2 separate regions of the Homo sapiens genome follow, and region 1 is linked to region 2. The links come from fine-mapping of genetic effects on gene expression. A gene starts in region 2. The other region holds a variant in brackets. All regions are shown on one strand. Distances are between the middles of the regions.

The links.
Region 1: its variant is fine-mapped to the expression of NADK in whole blood (TOPMed, PIP 0.98).

The regions. Positions count from the first base shown.
Region 1 is chr1:1,748,431-1,760,177 of GRCh38, forward strand. It overlaps NADK (NAD kinase), which reads right to left. Exons shown (of 12, transcript NM_023018.5): 4 at 8,751-8,880; 5 at 8,073-8,178; 6 at 7,828-7,913; 7 at 6,944-7,046; 8 at 6,114-6,268; 9 at 5,854-5,953; 10 at 5,621-5,778; 11 at 5,137-5,219; 12 at 2,802-4,630. The coding sequence ends at 4,474. It overlaps LOC112268218 (a long non-coding RNA gene), which reads left to right. Exons shown (of 2, transcript XR_002958243.2): 2 at 1,485-3,312. Among named protein-coding and RNA genes, the nearest start is that of NADK, 24 kb to the right of the region's middle. RefSeq lists enhancers at 4,694-5,223, 11,564-11,747. The variant A/G (reference allele first, on the strand shown) is at 6,642.
Region 2 is chr1:1,772,470-1,784,216 of GRCh38, forward strand. It overlaps NADK (NAD kinase), which reads right to left and starts at 6,001. Exons shown (of 12, transcript NM_023018.5): 1 at 5,820-6,001. RefSeq lists enhancers at 1,639-2,140, 7,777-7,946, 7,957-8,016, 8,027-8,096, 8,107-8,206 and 1 more and silencers at 5,517-6,716, 10,301-10,595.

The DNA.
Region 1 (11,747 bases), 24 kb before region 2:
ATTTTAATTTTAAATTTCTTTGATTATGTTCTAGTTTGATTATTGATCATTTACTTCTTAGCTATTTATATTCTTCCTTGAGTCATCGGTTTCTGCCCTTTGACAATTTTTCTGTGAATGTTTTGTGTTGATTATATGAGCTTTGACTGTATTGAGAACATCCACGCATTGTATTATTGCAACTGTTTTCCTAGTTGAGAACATCGACCTGCTGTATTATTGCAAATGTTTTCCTGCTTGCATGTAGTCATTTGTTATGCATATTAATGAATTTCTATCCACATGACGTGGAGTCAGTTAGGAATCAGTTAGGACGCCCTCGCTGTGTGGGAGACTGATGGGTCCAGGCGCTGTGCAAACCCCGCCTCCAAAGTGCATCCTTGGCTCACTGGGACCTTCCGGGTTGTGCTGCTCTTGCTTCACAGCCTCTCTGGGTCTCCCTGCCGTCTGCTGACCTCGGGGCAGGGTCTACCCAGGCTGAGCGGCCCATGGGCTGTGGGATTCCTTTCCTCTGCCTTCAGGTCCTGGATGATGTAGAAGGCAGGAAGGAAAGCAGTCATGGCTAGCTCTGTCCTGCCCCCTTCGGGGTCCCCCCCGGCCCACAGGCTCCTCCTTGTCCCCCAGCCAGCCTCAGTCTGGGTCTGGGCTCCCGCTGGGGAGGAGGGTGAGACCTGCCGGCCCAAAGGAGCTGAAGTTTCCCAAGGGGCGTTGAGGACAGCAGGGAAGTGTGGGGTGTGAACTGAGGCCCCAGAGAAGGGTCTGTGCCAAGGCCCCATGGGTGGGGAGGAAGAAGGAAGCGTCCCCACCTGGAGACCCAGCCTGCAGGCCACTCGGCCACCTGCGCAGAAGTAGGGGAGCAGCAGCCGCTCATGCCCCTGCAGTTTGTCCTCATCAGCAGGTGGGGAAACTGAGGCCGGGGAGTTCTCCAGGCCAAGGTCACTCACGGGCAAGTTCCCGCAGCCTTTGGACCCTCCATACACGTCAGGGCCGCTCATGCTTTCCTGGGCCCTTCACTGGTTTGGAGGAAGCTTCCTGTTGCCCAGAGCGCACTGCCTGTCTCTGAGTGTATGTGTCTCAGTGGCGTCCATGTGTATTTTTCTCTGTGTGTATCTGTGTGAGTCTGTGTGTGTGGTGTGTTTGTGTCTGAGTGTGTGGTGTTAGCGTGTCTCAGTGGCGTCCATGCATATTTTTCTGTGTGGTGTGTCTGTTTGTGTGTGTGTGAATCTACGTGGGTGTTTGTCCATCTTTTTGTCTGGCCTCCTGTCCCCTCTGCACAGAGCAGCTGGGTGGGGATGCTGGTCCTGGGGGCTTGTCAGCAGGATGTGGGCGTGGGGCAGCCCTGGGTGAGGCCTGAGTACAGGCCCCAGGTGCCTCCTGCACAGGGGTGGCTGAGCCAGCTCCTCTGTGGCTCCCGGGTCCCCACCGCCGGTCACTGGGCACCACCTGTCCTGGCCACCCACTCCTGCCCACCCTGCTCTCCGCAGGGGCCTCCTTCCTCTTTCAGCTGTGCGCCCTGGTTGTGGAGGCTCCTAAGGAGGTTGTGGCCTCGGTTTACCACCTGCCTTGGCTCCTTGGTGTTGCCAGACCCTGAAGGCAGCCCATGCCCTGGCTGAGATCCTTCTGGGGCGGGATGTGCTGGAAGCAGCTGAACCACGTGGTGATGTACCAGCTCCTGCTGTCCCCTACATCCCCAGCACCGCCAGCCTTCCCTGGGCTCCTCCGGCCGGCTCCTCTACCCTGTACCCGCCCCACCCTGCTACCACCCCCCAACCAGACTTCCAGCTCCAGGCAGGGTCGCAGCCTCCTGGGCTCCCAGCAGGACAGGCCTCACCCAGACCCCGCAGGAGCCATGGGACTTGGGCTGGGTCTTTGGGCCTGGCTGCAGCCCCTTTGGACCTGACCTGAGGAGACACCCTGGCTGTGGGAGGCAGGGTGGGGGTGCCGGGCCCAGCACAGAGGTGCCCAGGGTGCAGGCTGGCACTGGCCCGGCAGGGACCGTGGATGCCGCCGTTTCAGGCTCGAAAAGGTTTCCATGCCCCAGAGCCTGAGCCCGGCAGCCCCCGAGGATGTCTTGGGGACTCTGTGCTCCCCAAAGCCGAGAAGGTTAGGCTTGACCCACAGCCTCTTCCAGGCCGGGGAGGCAGAGGCGCTCCAGGTCGGTAGGGCGGGGCCCACAGCCCAGGGTTTCACGTCCCCAAAACGGGGCAGGGTGCTGGAGGCGCAGGTGTCCACAGGGTGGTCGTTTTGGTCTCTCCTGGACTTGCACGCGTGTAGTGCAGACTGGCTGCCGGCAAAGCCCTGAGCCACATTCATCTGGGCCTTGTTAGGACAACAGGGACGGTGCGGGGTGGGGGGGTTGCGGGGCGCAGGACCACGTCAGTGGAGGGAGGGAGGCCGATATCGGTGCCCAGGCTGGGCCCAGGGGCCAGCGGGTCCTCACCTGGCTTGTGGCTGCCCCTGTTAGGCAGCCCGGATGGAGGGGCTCTTCCAGCCCTGCTGGCCCCGGGAATGCAGGGACTCAATTCCCCCTGGTCTCAGTGGCTCTTCCGGGAGCAACACAGCCTGCCCGAGTCGACACCACCCCTCGGGTTTGAGTCCCTTCTGTCTACCCCTACCCCCGCCAGGGCACTGCCCCCTTGCCCGGAAGAGGCAGCGGCACCCCCAGCCCCTTGGGGAGGATGCCCTGCCGGCCCCACACTCGGTGGATGGGCATTTTGGGGCTAGGATTTAATGGGGGTGACCCTGCCCGACCCCTCTATGTTGGTTCCACGGCGTCAGAAGAAAGCTGTTATTAACCCAGCTTATTTTCTACAAGTCTTGTTTATTGAAAGGATCTGAAAAGCGTAATAAGGCTTTCAATGACATTTAATACATTTTCAAGAAATTAATATGAAACATTAAAATTTACTTCAAAAATCCAAAGTTTTCTAGATCATTCCCATCTCACGCTGCTTTAGAGGTCAGTTCACACCTTCTGTGTTCAGATGAGCGGCTGGAATTCTGAACACTGCCGTCTTCCAGCCCTAACGCTGGGCGCTGGTCCCTCTCTCCTAAGCCCACGGCTGGGCTTCCCCTGTGCCCAGGGTCATGGCGGACTTCAAGCCAGGCCGGCTGCCCAGAATCACACTCAGGGTTTTTGGACGCTCAAGTCCACAGATGCTGAGGTGCCCAGACGAGGGTGAGCAGGGAGACACATGCCTCGGAGAACGTGCCCAGGCTGGGCCAGGCGGCTGCGGGAAGCTCCTCACGGGCAGAGGAGAACGTCTTGTGCCTTCCTTATCGATCTCCAGCAGATGAGGGCAACTTCGTGTGCAAAACTCAGAGAGCAGTTACTCAAAAAAAAGACACCCGGGCAGCAGTAACCAGGACACCAGGGTCCGACCACGGCCTCCACACACCTGTGCCCGTGGAAGACGCGGGCGCCGGGGTAGGCAGCATCCACGTGCTCCACAGCTGCCGGTGCTGGGCAGGCTGGAGACTCACGGGAGAGGCAGGAGGAGAATCAGCGTGTTGAGTCCCTCGCTGTGTTAGTGTGAAAAATTCTCATTACAGTTGCAAATAAAAGGGATCACGATCACTAGCCCCGGAAACCCTCATCTCCCGGACCATCAGGATCGCACTGAACAGAATGGTCCCCTAATGGTCCCTGAGGACAGCGTCTTGCAGAACATAAATGTAAACATTGAATGGCAGACGACTCCCTTCCCCTTGAAATCTTCACAAAAGTGTGTACGAGAAAGTATGTACATCAGCACTTCAGAAAGTTTAAAAGAGTCTCTAAAAAGTATATACAGGATTTAAACTACCTTCCTGGGAGCAGAAGCTACGTGAGGAATGTGTGGGTCGCTGGCGATGCCAGCCCCCTTCCCGCTGAGTGTCCCAGACTCAGTGCTGGCCTCAAGCGGGGAGGGCTGGATGGCAGGGGACGCATCCAACCCTCTCCAGAAACTGAGCAGAACAAAACCGCCTTGCCAGCCACTGGCAAGACCATGCTTTCAATGGCGCCTCCGCCAGGGGCTTCCCTGCAGAAGTTTTAGGGGAAGAGGTGCAGGTCAAGGGGAAAAGCATGGCAGCTCAAGGAAGGTTTTTGGCTGAGACATTTATTATCAACATTGAAGGACAGGTCGAGTCATTCTGACTCCTCTGAATTTCAACCGACTGATTTGCGGAAAAATATCCTGGCATGGAAATTGCGGCAGCTGGAGGCCGCGCTCCAGGGACCCACCGCGGGGTGTCAGCAGGACAGAAGCACTCCCAGCCCATTTCTCACGCTTCTTTAGAAATGCAAAAAAAGTCAGACATTTTAAAAAAACAGCTGATCTGGACAAAAGGCAGACCCAGGCTCTAACCCAGCTACAGAAAGGAAGTGGCCGTGCCACTGAGACAGGCGGTCACAGACACACGCAGATTGGTCTGTCCCCAGAGGGCGCTTGGAGGGCAGCGGAAGGATTCGGGCCTGGATAGGGGCTTGACCTAGCCCTCCTCCTCCTCCTCCTCCTCCTCCTCGAAGTGGGCTTGCTTCTTCCGGACGTTCCAATGCAGGCACTGGGCGAGGCTCTCAAACCAGTCGCTCACGGGGTCCCGCACACAGATGGAGGGGAGCGGGTAGCATGAGGTAGTGATGCTGATGCTGGGACGGGAGAGCAGCAGCCTGAGCCAGGGCTTCCAGAAAGGCCCACCCCCGGCCAAGAACCCTTCCTCCCTCCCTCCCTGGGAATGGCCGGGACTCTTTTCCTGTGGGGCCGGGCAGCCCCTCCCCGAGGCAGGCTTGAGCAGTGCCCCATGGGTGCTGGGACAGAGCCATCCCAGGTCCTGGAGGGGACGGTGCAGGGAACTGACAAACTCTGCCCCAGGGCCCTCAGGGGTGAGGTCCCAGGAGGTGGGTGGGGGTGGGCAGCAGTGCCAGGGGGGACACCCTCAGGCCTCTGCTGGGGCCAGGCCTGCATGTGCCACCGTATGCGACCCGCTGCCCCCAGGACGGGTGCCCCGACTGTGATGCTGCAAGACCCAGGGACTCAGGCCCTGTGGTGCCCTAGGGGACAAGCTGTGTCTACAGGCCAACCGCAAGAGGGCAGGCGCTGCCTGGCCCGGGGAGGAGGTTGGCAGGCAGCGCCCAGCCCGGCATGCAGCCCACACCTGTCTCCATGGCGGATCTCTTGTCTCTTCCGTCCATCAAAGGACACCCATGCTGTGTTCCTTGCTTCAGGTGACAGCATGATCTGAGGGTCAAGCAGGGAGAGGTGTGGGCCCCCAGCTGTGGGGAGGACGCTTCTAGGCACCCACCCCTGAGTGCTCGCCAGAGGTCGAAGGTTGGGCAGCTCTGACCCTGCCTTGCGGACGGTGCAGTGCACGTCCTACAGGCACCGGCCCAGCTCAGCACCGCCAGAGACCAACAATGGCAGAAAGCCCCTCAGACCCGGGCCCTGGGCACCTTGATGGACAGAACTCGGGCACCAGCAAGGGAAGGCTTGCATCTGAGGGGGCACAGGATGGCCCTAGGATGACGAGGCCGCGTCTGAGGCTGGAGCCAGCATGGCAGAGCGGGGTGCTAGGTCCCGGCTTTGTGTTGCACGGGGTCAAATGACTCACAAACCGGAAAAGGAGTGTCGTTGGCTCTGACCTTCAGCTCGACCCCTGCGGGGACCACGATGGGCCGGAAGGACAGCGAGTGGGGGCAGATGGGCGTGATCATGATGGCCGGCACGTTGGGGTGGATCATGGAGGCCCCGGCCGCGGCCGCATACGCCGTGCTGCCCGTCGGGGTGGACACGATCACTCCTGACAGGGACAGGCGCAGGCGTCACTCCCGCCCGAGGGACGCTCAGGGCCCCAGGACAGTGCTGCGGGCCTTACCGTCGCCCTGCACCGTGGTGATGAGGTGTCCGTCCAGGTAGACATCCACATTGGACAGGTAGGAGGAGGGGCCTCTGTCAATCACCACCTCATTCAGGACCTGGAGGGGCGACAGCATTGCACACTCAGGGCGGGGGATGCCGCACGGCTCGCAGACACCCTCCGTCTCACCCAGCCGGGCTCTCCGGAAGGTCCTCATCCCTGGGACCGAAGTCGCCCCACCCTGGGCCCCTCACCGAGGCCGAGGCGCCTCCACTCACCTGGTACTGCATGGCCTGCTTCCCGACATCCATGTCCAGGCCTGCAGCCTGCGAGCCGTTCTCACCCAGCCCATTGTGCACGGCCGTCTTCTTCCCCCGGAGCTCCTTCACCACCCTGACCTTCAGCCGACTCCGGAGAACAACAGCTGCGTTCCCTGAGGTCCAGCAGGAGTCAGAGGGCATGCATCAGGGAAGTCAGTGGGGTCAGGGGCCCCACCCCAGGGAGGCCAGTGGGAGTCAGAGGGCTCTTTCTTCTCCCAAGTTGACACACTTCTGTGCCTTTTTCTTTTTATTTTGAGATGGAGTCTCACTCTGTCACCCAGGCTGGAATGCAGTGGTGTGATCTTGGCTCACTGCAACCTCTGCCTCCCAGGTTCAAGTGATTCTCCTGCCTCAGCCTCCCAAGTAGCTGGAACTACGGGTGCGCACCACCACGCCCAGCTAATTTTTGTATTTTTAGTAGAGACGGGGTTTCACCGTGTTGGCCAGGATGGTCTCATCTCTTGACCTCGTGATCCGCCCGCCTCG[A/G]CCTCCCACAGTGCTGGGATGACAGGCGTGAGCCACCGCGCCCGGCCGACACTTCTGTGCCTTCTGAGAGTGAGAATCAGCTCACTTCTGCCCAACACACATGGCAGCTTCAACCTGTGATCTGCTGAAACTTCTCAGTGTCAGTAAAAGGTTTGAACCACTCAAGATTTAGAAATCCCTGAATCTTGAAACCTTTAAATGTTGCTCCATGCATCATTAAATGAAAATAAACCCCCCGCAAGCAAGCGAGACAGCAGCGCCATGATCAGAGCTCCTGTGGGCTCCAGAACATTCCAACTCACCCTCTATCACCTGAGTAACTTGGGACTGAAAGTTCTCAAAGCTGAATGGGGTCAGGAAGCCCAGGGAGCCCAGGTGGAAGGCCATGACCGGAGGGACGCTGCCCTGTGAGCCGACGGAGAGGTCACTCAGTGCCCACGCCGTGCACCCCCGCACCACCCAGCTTTCCAGCAGCACCTCAGGAGGGACCCAGCTCTGTGGGGACAGCACCCCGACCCTCTGCAGGAGGGACTGGCCATGTGGACAAGCGGAGGGGGACGTCGCAGGCCAGGGTGGGCCGGGCCACCAGGGCCAAGGTTGGTGTGGGGAGCTGGTGAGGAACAAAGGTGGCAGGGCTGAGCGGCCCCCTGGGCACGGAGGGCTGGGGGAGCTGGCGAGGGCGGGTGGGAGGCAGCCTTGGGGTCGGAGCCTCGCGCCCCACAGGTGCTAATGGGGAGATGGGGAGAAAAGCAGGGCGGGCTGCGGGCATTTCCGGTGTCACCAACATGCAGTGGGCCAAGGGCAGAGCCAGGGTCCCCCACACAGCGTGGCCCTACAGCCCCAGGGGAGAGCTGTGCTGCTGAGAAACCAGGAAGAGGAGCTCAAGGGAGGCCCAGAGGGGATGGGCCAGTAGGCGAGGTCGTTTCCCAGGACCCACCACCCTGCGCCACTCCCTGCTGTCCCAGGCGGGCGCTGGCCACCCCCAGCCGTAGCACTGTGTCCACACTGCCCCTGGCCCCACCGTCGCACCCCACCGGGCTGCCACCATGGGCCTCAGTGCTGGCCGCTCTAGGTGACTGCTCTCGTATAAAGGGGTGAAAAGCAATGGAAGCCATGCTTGTGAGCCCCTCGTTACGCAGCACCTAGACTAGAACCTGGTGTGGGTCTGGAAATGTCAGCGCTTCACCTGGAAAAGCGAGGAAGCGTACAGCAGCGTCCCGTCTCCCCCCAGGCAGATGATGAAGTCTATCTGATTGGAAATGTCATCATAATCTAGGAAACACAAAGCAAAACCAAGAAGAGGCTGTCACACAGTGGCCCCTCTGTGGCGCAGTGCGCAGACACCAATGACAAGGGCAACAGTGCCAGAAGCTTCCAATGGGGCGGGGAACTGTGCTGGAGAAACCAAGGACAGAGCTGCTGACAGCCCACCTTCTCGAAAGGTACAGAATTTCTTCTTCACTGCCCCAAAGCTTTCATCGCTGGCGATGGCAGGGTCTTCTAGCACTTTCTTTTCCACATACACGATCATGTTCTCCTGGAAGCAAAGTGCCAACCTGCTCATTCCACCTGCAGACCCCACCCTCCTGCAGGGAGGTTCCCGACTCACGGGCGCTGTGGTCAGAGACCTGGCATCGTGGCCTGCATGCCCGCCCCCCCACGCTCACGCTGAAACTTCATCACCAACGCGCCAGGAGGAAGCAGGACCTTTAAGAGATGACTGGGCGGAGGGGGCTCCCTCTCAGGAATTGACTAAGGCTGTTATTTCAGGAGTGGCTTTCCTGGGCGCCGCAACCCCCACGCCTGCTCTTCTGAAGAGAAGACACAGCAGGAAGGCCCACGTCAGATGTGGCCCCTTGATCTCGGACTTCCCGGCCTCCAGGGCCACGAGCCCACCAGCTCATTGTTGGTCACCCAGTCTGGTGCTTGCCATGGCGGCACACACAAACCCAGACACCCGGCAGATCCCCACTCAGTCCCCAGTTCCAGACAAGCAGCCGTTGCCCAGCACTTGAGGTGGTTCCCATGGTCTCACGGGGCGGTGATGTGGATGGAGGCCCCCCCAACTCCATGTGCACCCCAGGCCCCCTTCCCCCCTGCCCCGCGTGCCTCCATGAGGTGCGTGCAGAGCTCCTTGAACGGCTGCAGTAGGCTGGCATCTCTCATCTTCTTGATGACAAGGACGCTCTTTGGGGACTTGTTCCACGTCAGCCGCTGGCTCGCGGGGTCCTGAATGTGCCTTTAGGGGAGGAGAAAAGAGTTCACACCAGCTGCGATCTCCCTCTTGCGGAAAAGGTGTATGACTTAGAAAATAAAAAAAAAAATCTTTAAAAAGGTGTTTTCACCTCCCAGGGAAACGTGCTCGGTGGCCACGGGCTCACAGGGCCTAGGGTCGCGCCACAGAGACAGGGTCAGGGGTCAGTAGGGTCCGGAGTGACCACCTCTCACCTGCTTGGCCCATCACACGCAGGCTCAGGCCCACAACCCCCACCCGGGCACCACGCTGACCCAAGTGCACGCACCACAGCCCTTCCCAGCCCCCGGCCACTTGCCTGCCTGGCTCCTCAGTGACGCTGGTGGGGCAGAAATGACCACGAAAGCCCATGGCTGGGCCACTCTTTGCTTGATGCCCTCCTCAGGCCCCCACGAAAACCCAAACCAGTTGACATGGTGACTCTGTCCCTAGGATCCTCTGCACACAGTTTCTGGCCCCACGGGAGCCCAGGACCCCTCAAGGACCCGCTTCCCCCCCTGCACACAGCTCACTACCTCCCTGCATGAACGGACTTTAACCTCACTCACTCTCACAGTAAAAATCACAGGTTTAAAAGTCCGTGGCAGCCCTGACACAGCCACCCGCGCTTTGCTGGCTCTGACCCCGACCACTGTGCCCGGTGTTTCTCCACAGGCAGGGCCCACCCCGGTGGGATTCCCATTACCACGTTAGTCACAGAAAACATCCCAGCCCAGAACCGGGAACACACACCACGGAGCCTGCTCCTGTTCCCAGAAGCCAAGGGAGGGCGCAGCGGGGCTGGCCACCGTCGTCAGCGCTCACCGCCTATCCTCAGCCCCAAAGGACAAGTTCTTATACCACCGCGCCAGCCAGCTAGTTCCAAGTTGCCCAATCGAGAAAGCTGCTGCCTGCCATGCCTCTTCCCAGCAGTGACTTCCCCAGGAGTGTGACCGTCCCACTAACACCCCCAGAACCACAACACAGACGCCGATGGCAGCCACAGGGCCACAGACCTTAGCCCATCGCTTGTGACCTTCGGAAGCTGGTCAGCACTCACCCTGTGCAGGCATTACTGGGAGGCGTGGGGTCACTCATGCCATCCCCTATGAGCTCAGCACCTGCCGGGTCACACATGTGGCTCGCGAGGTAGCCCCTGCCTGCTGGGAGCCGGCCAGTGTGTCCACAGCATCCAGGCCACGCTTGGCGAACACGCGGCCGCCCCATCGGTATGGTCCTGACTGTGCGCCCACACTAGAAGCCTAAGCTCTTCATACTCAAAACTCAAAGCAAAACACAATTGTGATGAGACTTGGTAAAGTTGTTGTAAAAGCAACTAAGTCAAAAGAGCTTCCTACACTTATAAAAATCAAACAAAACAAAACAGTTTCCTCATTGGTCACATGGTCCTCCTGCCTAATCCCTTCTGAAAAAAAGTCCTCAGTTCAGCAGCAAAGAGGCCACACTTCAGCTCCCTGCTCCTAACTGAGCCGGGTGGGACCAAGCCCTCTGTTCCCGTGGCCTCAGACCTGGCCAAGTACCCAGCCTCCAGCCTCGCCCCAGCACTGCGCCAGCCACCGCTCTGGCCCGCGGAACCGGCTGGGCCCCAGGGAAGGCACCCTCAGGCCACAGTCAGGTGGAAGGGCGTTCCCTGCCTCCTAGCCCGCTGCGTCACTCTGCTTGGCTCCGGCCCAAGGGCGTGCAGGTGGCTCACGGTCCTCCGGCCTGGTCAGCCAGCAAAGCCCCCGCCCTGCACACGGCTCCCCCTGCTCTCCCCGCCAACAGTCACCACTGACCCAGTGGCCTGGCCTACACCCATTCCAGCCCTGAGGCTCAGCTGAGCCCAGCCAGAGCCACCAGCAGCGGCGTCGTACACCGGCCCAGGCACCCACCGCTGTGTGTGACCACAAACCAGCGCCTCGACCTCTTCCTGGGTCACCTGCAAAGCAGGACACCAGCCCTTGCAGGCACGCACGGCTGTGGGTACTGCACGGAGAGGGCAGGGGGTGGCGTGAAGCTTGCAGGCACACACGGCTGTGGGTACTGCACGGAGAGGGCAGGGGGTGGCGTGAAGCCAGCATGGCCACAGCCTGGCCCGCCTGGCCAGCTCCTACTGAGACTGTCTCACACATGGGTGGCCACGCACACTGTGACACACGGGCACTCACGCACCTCCACAACACAGGCCCACCAATTCCCTGGACAACAAAACAGGAAGCGGGTGCCCTCCTCACCAGGCGCCCCCACAGGGTCTTGCTCTGGACTATCAGGGAAGACGGAAGTTCAGATGCATGGGAAGCCCTGCCCCTCCACAGCGGGGATGGGAAGCGGGAGGTTATGATCCCAGAGACACAGAGCCCAGAGGGGGCGTGCTCCCATGGGGGTGCCGAGAAAGCTGCATGCCCCTCAAGGCTGCCCCACAAACCCACCGCTTCCTCCTGCGGGGCTGTCTGGCCTCGGGCAGCTCGGGGACCACTGAGTACGCCCTGGTCTGAGGGCTGAGGCAGAACATGCACCTGTCCGGTGACCCCGCCCTGGCCCGAGTGACTGACGGCTGGTGAAGGCAGCAGCTGAGATGCGAGTGACAAAGGAGTGGCTCTGCCAGGACCAGGAAGTGCAGGGAGGGCACCAGGCAGCGGGGGAGAGGCCCGGTGGGGTGCCAGGGACACAGCAAGCACAGGATGGCGGGACAGAGCCACGGCGGGGCCGGGAGGGCAGTGGAGCACTCTGGGTCACCCACGTGGCTGCTGTGCAGGGAAGGGATGGTGAGGCCGCGGCGAGTGGTCAGGAGTCCACACAGCGGAGGGCAGCCGGGCAATAGTGCAGGGGAGCTGCTTGGATATTTTGGGATCAAAGTGACAGAATCTGCAGAT
Region 2 (11,747 bases):
CTGTTAAGAAAATTAAAATACAGTTGGGTGTGGTGGCTTGTGCCTGTAATCCCAGCACTTTGGGAGGCCGAGGCGGGAGGATCGCTTGAGTCCAGGAGTTCAAGACCAGTTCTGTGTCTTGCTAGTGGTTATATAATTAATTTAAGAGGTAACACTGCATAGAGCCATACACACATGTAAAACTGGTGAAACCTGAATAAGGTCTATAGTTTAGTTAGCAGTATTTCAATTCCCTGGTTTTGATATTGTACTATGGAGGTGTATGGAGGTGTAAGATGTTAACACAAGGGCCGGGCATGGTGGCTCATGCCTGTAATCCCAGCACTTTCGGAGGCCAAGGCGGGCGGATCACCTGAGGTCAGGAGTTTGAGACCAGCCTGACCAACATGCAGAAACCGCGTTTCTACTAAAAATACAAAAAATCAGCCCGGCGTGGTGGCGCATGCCTGTAATCCCAGCCACTCGGGAGGCTGAGGCAGGAGAATCACTTGAACCTGGGAGGGGGAGGTTGCGGTGAGCTGAGATCACGCCATTGCACTCCAGCCTGGGCAACAAGAGCCAAACTCCATCTCAAAAAAAAAAAAAAAAAGATGTTAACACAGAGGGAGCTGGTGAAGGGCACAGGGGTCTCTCTGTACTATTTTTACAACTTCCTATGAATTAGTCTATGATTATTTTTTTTTTCCCCAGACGAAGTCTCGCTCTTGTCCCCCATGTTGGAGTGCAATGGCGCAATCTTGGCTCACTGCAACATCTGCCTCCAGGGTTCAAGCAATTCTCCTGCCTCAGCCTCCTGAGTAGCTGGGATTACAGGTGCCCGCCGCCACACCCGGCTAATTTTTGTATTTTAAGTAGAGATGGGGTTTCACCATGTTGACCAGGTTGGTCCTCAAACTCCTGACCTCAGGTGATCCGCCCGCCTCGGCCTCCCAAAGTGCTGGGATTACAGGTGTGAGCCACCGCACCCAGCCAATTATTTCAAAATAAACAGTTAATAAAGGTCAGACACAGTGGCTCACACTTGTAATCCCAGCACTTTGGGAGGCCGAAGCAGGGGAATCACCTGAAGCCAGGAATTGGAGACCAGCCTGGGCAACACAGCAAGACCCCGTCTCTACAAAAACATTAATAAAAAATAAACAAATCAAAATCACAAAATGTTAAAAAAAATGTATTATTACTGCTACATTACCTAGAAGCTCTATTTTGTGTGTGTGTGTGTGTGTGTGTGTGTGTGTGTGTGTGTGTGTGTGTGTGTGTGAGAGAGAGAGAGAAATAGAGATATTGAGAGACTGAGAGGTAGGGTCTTGCTCTGTCACCTAAGCTGGAGTGCAGTGGTGCAATTACAGCTTACTGCAGCCTCAATCTCCCAGGCTTAAGGGATCCTCCCATGTAGCTGAGACTACAGGCATGAGCCACTATGTCCAGCTAATTTTTAAATTTTTTGTAGAGACAGGGTCTCGCTACCTTGAACGGGCTGACCTTGAACTCCTGGGCTCTGGTGGCCCTCCTGTGTTGACCTCCCAAAGCATTGGGATTACAGGCATGAGCCACTGCACCCAGCCTAGAAGCTCTGTTCATATTTATTTGCGAAGATCAATTTGATGACTAAGCAGTAAACTAATTTATAAAATAATATTAAATATTAAAACCAACTTTAAACAATTATCTTCACCTATGTATGTGTGTGTGTGTATATATATACACACACACACACACATATATATATATTTAACAAGTATCTCCAATACCACAACCAGTGTATTTTTTGTTTTTTTGAGATGGAGCTTCGCTGATGTTGTCCAGGCTGGAGTGCAGTGGCGCGATCTCGGCTCACCGCAAACTCTGCCTCCCAGGTTCAAGCAATTCTCCTGCCTCAGCTTCCCAAGTAGCTGGGACTACAGGTGTGCGCCACCACGCCCAGCTAATTTTGTATTTTTAGTGGAGACCTGCCTCTTAATTCTCCAACATGGAGGGGTTTCTCCATGTTGGTCAGGCTGGTCTCAAACTCTCAACCTCAGATGATCCGCCCGCCTTGGCCTCCCAAAGTGCTGGGATTGCAGGCGTCGCCACCGCGCACGGCCACCATTATGCCTCGGCCTCCCACAGTGCTGGGATTACGGGCGTGGCCACTGCGCGCGGCCACCATTGTGCCTCGGCCTCCCACAGTGCTGGGATTGCAGGCGTGGCCACCGTGCGCGGTCACCACTGTATTTTTTGACAAGGGTGAGTCAGGACTGACACTTAATTCATTTGTTTGATATATTAACTGCTTTAAAAGGACACACAATGCTAGCTGCACCAAAGTGCATTCAAATTCCTCATAGCATGAATCTAATTTTAAAAAACCTTTGTAGGGCGGGCATGGTGGCTCACGACTGTAATCCCAGCATTTTGGGAGGCCGAGGCGGGCAGATCACGACATCAGGAGTTCAACACCAGCCTGGCCAAGATGGTGAAACTCCGTCTCTACTAAAAATACAAAAAAAATTAGCTGGGCGCGGTGGCAGGCGCCTGTCATCCCAGCTACTCAGGAGGCCGAGGCAGGAGAATCGCTTGAACCCAGGCGGCAGAGGTTGCAGTGAGCTGAGATCACGCCACTGCCCTCCAGCCTGGGGGACAGAGTGAGACTCCGCCTCAAAGAAAAAAAAAAAATCCTCTGTATTAGGAAGTTTTATTAGAAAAAAATACTAGAGCACAATAAGAAAATATTCATAACGAACTTATACAAAGTAGCAAGGAAAACATTAAGATGCCAATAAATAAATGTGCAAAGAACATGAACAAAAGTCACACACACACAAATACAAACATAATACACGAGTTCGTTCCCATGTAAGAACTCAATCAATATTTGTTGCAAGACTAAATGAAAAAGGAAAATTTATTTAGTGACAGAAATGGGGAAACATTCAACCTCAACCCTGAGTGGGAAAAAACTTACTGCCCACTAAATTACCCATCTCATCTCACCCCGGTAAATAATGCCCAGTGCTGGCATGCACACTGGCAGTATACAAACTGAGAAAGACTTTCTGGAAAGTGCTACAGCCATGTGACCACAGGGCTTCACCCTGTGACCTCATTAAACCTAAGCAGATTACAGGTCTGAAGGGGGCTTTCTTTAGATGTGGCTCCACCTACTTAGGGGCAGATGAAGAAAACAGGGGTCTGGGCAGTTCTGAATGGGAAGGCCAGGCATCACCTCCCTCTTCAGTTGCACAAAGTGTGCGTGGCATCCTCACATCCCATCTGCCTCAATTTCGCTTTTTCTCTGAACACTTTTCACCATCTGTCTGAAGCACACACACACATTTTATTCACTTCCCCATTCCCATGCATGAATGCTAGGACCTTTGCAATTGTGGGCCAGGAAAGATTGCAAATGATAAGCCACCAGCACAGAGAGTAGAAATGAAATCCTGGGGTTACAAGCTAAAGCATTACTGACACCCACTTGTCCAGAACGGCTGAAGCTGGGCGGTGACTGTCAACAGGTATATACGGACTAGAAAGTGGAGCTGCTGGAGGAGGCCCTGTACCTTCCTGCCATGACACAGCCTCCCCCCAAGTGCTGGGCTTGTGTGCTCAACACTCCCTCTTGCTGTCATCCTACCACACCTGCAGACTGGAGGTAATCCAGATGCAAGGCCGTCGAGTCCCGCAAACACCCACCTGCCTCTTAATTTTCCAAGTGAGACCTACATTTCCTCAAGCGTGAAGCTCAATAAAATCAACTATTGTTTTCCGTTTTCATCACGAGCGCCACTTTCCCCCTATTTGTTCACCGCCTCCACTCCACAAGAACTGCTCTTGACTTGGCCAACTTTCTGGGACACCCTCACTACAAGGATTTATGAGTCAAACAGGTTTTTGTGCTAGCCTGGAAATCTAACTGCTGACAGCAGTTGTTTCAAGAAGAAAATGCTGTTTTGGAACCAAACAGCAGGCTGCCAACTGAAACAACATAAACCCACCTCCAAGTTCAAATGAAACAAACAAACAAAAAGACTGGTCCAAGTGAGGCAAGCTGTGGTGGCTCACACCTGTAATCCCAGCACTTTGGGAGGCCAAGGTGGGCTGATCACGAGGTCAGGAGTTCGAGACAAGCCTGGCCAACACAGTGAAACCCGTCTCTACTAAAAATACAAAAATTAGCTGAGCGTGGTGGTGGGCGCCTGTAATCCCAGCTACTCAGGAGGCTGAGGCAGGAAAATCACTTGAACCCGGGAGGTGGAGGTTGCAGTGAGCCGAGATTGTGCCACTGCACTCCAGCCTGGGCAACAGAGCTAGACTCTGTCTTAAAAAAAAAAAAAAAAAAAAAAGACTGGTCAAAGTGGCTTACGTCTGTAAGATCAGCACTTTGGGAAGTGGAGGCAGGAGGATCTCTTGAGGCCAGGAGGTTGAGACTAGCCTGGACAACACAGTGAGACTCTATCTCTACAAAAAATTTTATAAATCAGCTAGGTGTGGTGGTGCAGGCCTGTAATCCCAGCTACTCAGGAGGCTGAGGTGGGAGGATCAATTGAGCCCAGGAATTTGAGGTTACAGTGAGCTATAATCATGCCACCATAAACACGCCTGGAGGACAGAGTGAGGCCCTGTTTCTAACATACACACACATATACACACAGAAACATCTCGAGAGGACACCTCCAAATGATGAAGCTATTTTGTTGGGTACTGCGGTGGCACCTGTGATTCCTCAAGTAGCTTGGAATCAGCGTGCTAACACCATAAAGTGGCTGCAAAAGTCCCAGTGAAGTCACTGCTGAGAGCAAACAGGCCTTACAGAGAAGTTCCAAGGGGACAGGAAATTTCCAGAGGCTTGAGAGGACAATGTTCAGGGGAATAAGTACTTGAAGGGAATTATCTAACAAGGTGTTAAAGTAACTAGCTTCTTAGACAAGATGACATCAGGAGGAAAAAAAAACTTATTAAGGCAAACATGTCAGTTTCAGGCCAACTAAGGCTGTCAGAGAGACATGGAACACAAGAAGAGAAGAGTTTTGAAATGTATTCCCATCAAGAGCCAAGAATAATGAACTTTTGAATGTAAAACTTAGTGTGTTCCAAAACAAGAAAGGAAAAATAACTTGTTACTCGGAATCGAAGCCAAAAGGAATCTCATTGCTTGGGGAGGAGGGATGGGAGGGTGGGGGTGGTCCTTGGCCTGGGAAGGAAAACTCCACCAGGCCTTCGGAGCTGGGCACGCCCTGTTCCCACAATTAAGAAAAAAAACGACGACCTAGAGCTCAAGGCCGGTGCTGACATCTGACCTACTGGATGGCAGCCGCCTGTAGGAACATCACCATAGACTATTGGAATTTTCTGGCAAGTACTGGGCACTAAATCAGAGATGTGTTTTTAGAGAATTCCATGCCAATACTGCTGTATAGAATCTTTTATTCATACTTTCCCACTAGGTTTGGGCCCCTCTAAGCTTTCACGAGTCAAAGACCCCTCCTGCTTGCTGAAACCACCCACGGAAGGCCGGACACCGAGGACCTGGCCGCCCAAGCAGAGGCGACTGACAAGCGCGGTCCGGGCTGGACGGCCCCACCTTCCCCGCCCGGGAGAGCCAGGCCGGACAGCGGCCTCCCTCAGACCCGTCCCCAAGGCCGAGCCTCGCCCTGGGCCGTGCTGGTGCCCCATTCGGGACGGAGCGGTGGCCCGTCAGCACTTCCACGGCCTCCTCAGCAGGCCAGATGGGCAGGGCCGGCCTGGTGTCTCCCCGCCTGGCCGCGCGCTCGCGGGCAGCGATGACCCCAGGCAGCGGGCGACCCCAGGCGGACGGCAGGCCGGGTCTGCTCACTCACCGTTCGCTGCCGCGGGCGCCTGCGGGGGCGTCTACATGCCGGACCGAGCCCGCAGGCCCCGCCGCCGCGCCGCCGCCAGCCGTCGCTACCTGGCCCTTGGCGCCCTGGCCGCCTGTTGCCCCATGGCCGCCCGGACCCCGGCGCCGGCGCCGCCGAGCAGCAATGCGCCGCGCCCGCCCACTGCGCAGGCGCACCCGCCACGCATGCGCGCTGCCGCGCACGTGGGGCGTCCCGCGCGTCTGCCGGGTCCCACCGGCGCCGGGACACCCCGCGCGGGCGGGAGGCGGCGGGCGTGGCGGGAAAGAGGCGGGCGGTGGGGAAGAGGGGCGAATCGCGGTGGAGAGCAGTGACCAGGGAGTGGAGGCGGGCAGCGGGGACAGGGGCGGGCGTCCGCGACTCGGGTAGGCGGGGGTCGGCGCCCCGAGGAGGGCGGCCCCCGGCTCCCGTCCCCACTCACCTGCCGCGTCCGGAGGGCGCCCCCGGGTCCGCCCGCCACGTCTACGCCTAGGCGCCCCCGACATTGTGATCCCAGCCCGGCGTCCCGCCCCCAACTCACCGCCACCGCGGGCGGGACCTCCCGGACCACGTGGGCCGGCTCAGGGGAGTGCAGGTGCCCCGCGAGAGCTGGCCCCGCCCGCCGCCGCTTCCCTAATTACCGGGCTGTGACACGGTGTGGGCCGAGCCGGATTTGGGAACCGAAACTTAGAGCAGCTGCGGCAGCGCTGCGCTCCCTCGGGGCTGTCCGTCGGGGCTGGGAGGGCGGCCCTGCGCCTGGGGGAACCGCGATCGGCCTCACGCCCACCTCTAGCGGCCAGGTGCGCCTTGCACGCCCACGAACGTCCTCAGAGGTCTACGCTTGGGATCCCAAGGCTGGCAGTGGAGGGAGGACCCGGTGGCCTGGGGCACCTCTAGGGGGACCAGGGAGCCGTGTTTTGCGCACCCCACAGGCTGGAGGACTCGGGGAGTTGGGGGAGGAGGCCAAAGCCACAGGAGCGGACTTTGTAGTGTTTGTTGGAACTGCGGGTCCCACCCAGCCCGCACTTGCTGAACTGGTGGCTGCTCATCAGCGCCTTCAGGCCTCAAATATCCCAATAATGTGCCCTATACCCAGTTCTCAGCTCTCGAGTCACTGTCAGGTAAACTGGCAATGCACGACCAGCTGCTCTAACCTGCTGGTCCCCCAGGTGCCAGACATTGTTTTGTTTTTCTGAGATAGTGTCTCATTCGTCCCCCAGGCCGGAGTCCAGTGGCGGGCTCACGGCTCACTGCAGCCTTGACCTCTCAGGTGCAAGCGATCCTTCCACTTCAGCTTCCCTAGTAGTTGGGACTACAAGTAGGTCCCGCCACACTCGACTACTTCATTCATATATATATATATTTGTGTGTGTGTGTGTGTGTGTGTGTAGAGATGAGGTTTTACCATTTTGCCCAGGCTGGGTCTCAAACTTCACCCGCCTCGGCCTCCCAAAGTACTAGGATTATAGGCGTAAGCCACTGCACCTGGCCCAGCCATTGTTTTCTGAGGTTCAGTCCCTGTCTATACTTTCTGTGTGATCACCTGGCCCAGGGTCGGTGTGGACCTGAGTCCTCTGCAGCCCTTCCCCACACCCGCATACCTGCTCTCTGGTCAGGACTCCTGGGACTTGAATCCAGAGACACGGAACACGGCCTGGCCAAGTCTTCCTGAAAAACACAGCTCTTCAGTTCAGGACCACAGTGAAGTACAGGGCACCAAGGGTGACTGGAAAGGGAAGCAAGGATCATGAGAACTTGGGGGATTTCTTAAGCTCTGTAACTTCTCCCGGGGTTATTTTGCAAACCCAACTGTTTCAAAGTGACCACCAGCCACACCCACAGAAGCGGCCTTGAGCTGCCCAGTTCTTTTTCTTTGGCGGGGGGAGAGGGGGCGGATAAGATCATTAACATAATAATGCGTGAGCTGAGTTTTTGCATATGATCATTAGCATAATAATGCTTGATCTAGATGGCGCACCCACAAGCCAGGCACTGAGCCAGGCCTCAGTAGAATCTTCTAGAGTGGAGGCAGTCAACTGCTTCTGCAGAGGCAACCAGTGACTGTCGTGGGCCCCAGGTCACACAGCAGGTGCCCTTCGCGTGTCCCGCTGTGTAGGGAGCTCCAGCAGCTGCCCCGTCTGTGGCATGAAAACCCTTTGTCTACCCTGGGCCTGGGCACTGCCTGCAGGAGAGCTTCCCTGTTTCAGAGATGAGAAAACAAAACCAGGGCTGTGGTTTCCTTCAGCTGACAGGTTGTGCAATTTCTCAGGGCAGGCCCCGGATATGACCTTGAAGATTCAGGGGCCAAGATCTCACACCCACACCTCACCCCAGGCCTGGCCAGCAATAACTAAGACCAAAGCTGGGAAGGCTCCTTAGGGCACCCAGAATGGTCCAAGAGGCAGCTTTGCTTGGGCTGAGACCAAAGGGAAGAGATGTTCCCGCAGCAGGAACAGAAGGGTCCAGGGCTATCATGGGGGCTTCTGCCAGATGGTGCACAGGAAGAGGCTCTGCCTTCAAGGGATTGGGGGTCAGGAAAGGCCCCCTCCTGCCTGACCAGGCCCCAGGGATGGGGCAGCAGTGGGTGGCATCCCCTGCCCTGACCTTCCTCAGCCCCAGGGCTGCCATTGCTCAAGGTGGCAGTGGACTCTTCACATAATTTCGCATTGTTTTTTGTATTCTTTAAGGATGGCTCCCATGTTGTTTACTTCAGAACCCCCAAAACCTGGACCCATCCTCTTCTGGGGGTCAGCAGGGATGGGGAGGGTGGAGGGAGAAGGGGGAACGGAGGCCATGAGGGATGGAGCAGGATGGGGTGCACTGGGGTACAGGTTGCTCCTGGGGAGGCTGAGGAGAGAGGGAAGTTGGCTTCAGGTGGCCTGGCTCCAGTAAACTGGGTGAACGAAGTCTGCCCAGAACCCACAAGGGTAAGTGGCCTGGAGCCTGGGGAAAGGATGACTGGGAAGGACTGAGGCTCCCAGTGAAGGACATCAGTATGGCAGGCTATCTGGTCATCTCATCCAGCCTCCAGCCAGCACCCGGCACAGGCCCTGCCCAGGCTGAAAGCCAGGATAGGGGCGTCTGCAGGGGCCAGTGTCTGGATCTGCTCACATGACAGTCTTCTGTTTGGCCTGGTTTGGGGCGAGGGGCAACCTCTTTCCCAGGATGCCAGCCATGTGCAGGGCATACTGAGGATTCAACAGTGGAAACCAAAGTCCATCAGGTGTTCACCTTCTAGTGGGGCAGACGGGCAAGAAGCAGAATTGGTGGGGGCAGGCAGGGGTTGGGGTACAGTTTTGACCAAGGTACCCAGGGACAAGTGTTTCTCTCTCAGGCAGAGGCAGCAGCAAGGACCAGGACCCTGAAGTGGTGAGAGCCTAGAGTGGGCGGGGATCATCAACAGTAACCACCTGGCAGGACTGGGACTCCCTGTGTCCTCACAAGATCCTTACCAAGCAGCCTAGTATAAGACGAAGTCTCGCTCTGTAGCTCAGGCTGGAGTGTAGTGGCATGATCTCAGCTCACTGCAAGCTCCGCCTCCCGGGTTCAAGCCATTCTCCTGCCTCAGCCTCCAGAGCTGGAGTTACAGGCGCACACCACTGAACCCGGCTCATTTTTTGTATTTTTAGCAGAGACGGGGTTTCATCATGTTGGCCAGGCTGGTCTTGAACTCCTGATCTCAGGTAATCCATCCACCTCGGCCTCCCAAAGTGCTGGGATTACAGGCGTGAGCCACAGCGCCCGGCCACAGCCTGGTACGTTTATTGTCCACATTTTTCACGCGGGGGCCAGAGGCACAGAGAGGCCAAGTAACTTGCTCAAGGTCACCCAGCGAGGAAAGGGAGCTGGGGGGTGGGGGTAGGGGACAGGGCGAGGCCAGAGAGTAGTGGGAGGGGCCGAGGCGGCCTTTCCCGGGAGCGCTCGGTTCCCGGCCGGCCCTTCTATTGGCCCCAGTCACTCAGGCTCCCAGGTCCGGCTCGGGGGGGAGCGGGGGGCCGCGCCAGGCCGCTGAAGTGTCCCCGTTTCGCGTGGGCAGAGCGCGCCTCCCCACGCATCCTGCTGAGGGCCAGCCTCTGCTAGGTGCGTGACACGGAGGGGACAGAACGGAAACCTTGTCCTGCTCAAGTGTGGACGTGCGTGCCACGTGCTAGAGTAAAATTGAGGTGGGGAACCTCCATCCCTGGGACATGGAGCACAGGGGCGACCCCGCGCCGCTTGGTCAAAGGAGGTCCGAGGCCCTGCAGGAACAGCCCACAGCCGGAGCGAGCTGCAGGTCACTCCACTGCCTGTGTCCACCTGCGACAGGTGCGCCCGCGCAAGCGGGGCGGAGCCAGGTGACCCGGACACAGGAAGCGCGCCAGGGGCCCCCACACCGCGGAGCTGCTGGCGACAAAGGGCGCTGCTCCTGCATAGGCCAGGCTAATGCAATCTACAAACTAGATTTCTGTGCCTACAGTTTGAAAATGATTGCAGTTCACTCAGCCAGTGTGGAATTATCCTCCTCTTTCCACACTGCCTTAGTCAGTGCCGCTGTCCAAGTGCACGTTGTTGGCGCCCGTTTTCATTTCCTGTTTTGCTAAGAAAGTGGGGCAGTGGCCTCCATGCCCGCCAAGGGACAGGCAGGCCGCCCCAGGGAGGGGTCCCCCTCAGCTCTGGCTCTTCCAGGCCAAAGCCAAGGGGAAGGGGCACCAGAGGGTCCCAGGTCCCACATGCCAGCTCCCTCAGTCTGCGGGGTGCCAGGCTAGGACACAGAAGCCAACAGGAATCCCCAAAGGGAGGAAGTGGAGTCGGGGGTGTGGCAGCCGTGCTGAGATGCTCGGCCTTTATTTACTCTGGGCAGGGACCAAGATAGGCCACTGCAGGCCGGCACCCTGCCTCCCGGCTGCTGGAGCCCCTCCCTCCCAGGAACTGCCAGCCAGGAAAGAGCCTCAGGTACTCTCTGCATTTAATTTTTAATTTTTTTTTTCTTTTGACGCCTCCAAGACAAGTTCAACTCTCTAGTGATTTTAAGTGGGGTTTTTGTAAGACAGCTGGCAGGGTTAGGGCTTGTGAAGAACTTGCATGTCTATGAAGAACTGATTTATTTCAGGGAAAAGTGGGGGATGACGAAGCCAGGCGAGCCCACCCCGTTCAGCCTGCCAATCACACCCACTTCAGCAGCCTAAAACAGCACCAGGTCACCCCACCAGGGAGACAACGCCATAGTGTCACTTGCAGTGCTGGCAGATGGGCACCCTTGGTGGCGTCAGAAACACACCCAGCACCTTGCCTGGAGCAGGGCGGCTGGGCCCTGCTCCGTGAATCCCAAGTGCCCTATGGGAGCCTCTCCGGCCAGGGACTGCCAGCCTAGAGGAGGGGCTGCTGGGTTCTCTGGTGCCCAGGGGAGGAGGGGGCCTACAGGTACTTTCTGCTGAGAGCCTTCTTCACTTACTAGGAAAAAGTTTGGCTGGGTGCGGTGGCTCGGCCTGTAATCCCAGCACTTTGGGAGGCTGAGGAGGGCGGATGACAAGGTCAGGAGATGGAGACCATCCTGGCTAAGATGGTGAAACCCCGTCTCTACTAAAAATACAAAAATTAGCCGGGTGTGGTGGTGGGCACCTGTAGACCCAGCTACTCGGAAGGTTGAGCCAGGAGAATGGCGTGAACCCAGGAGGCAGAGCTTGCAGTGAGCCGAGATCGCGCCACTGCACTCCAGCCTGGGCAAGAGCGAGACTCCATCTCAAAAAACAACAACAAATTAGCCGGGCATCTGGGCCAGGCGCGGTGGCTCACACCTGTAACCCCAGCACTTTGGGAGGCTGATGTGGGTGGATCACAAGGTCAGGAGATCGAGACCATCCTGGCAAACATGGTGAAACCCTGTCTCTACTAAAAATACAAAAAATTAGCTGGGCATGGTAGCAGGCGCCTGTA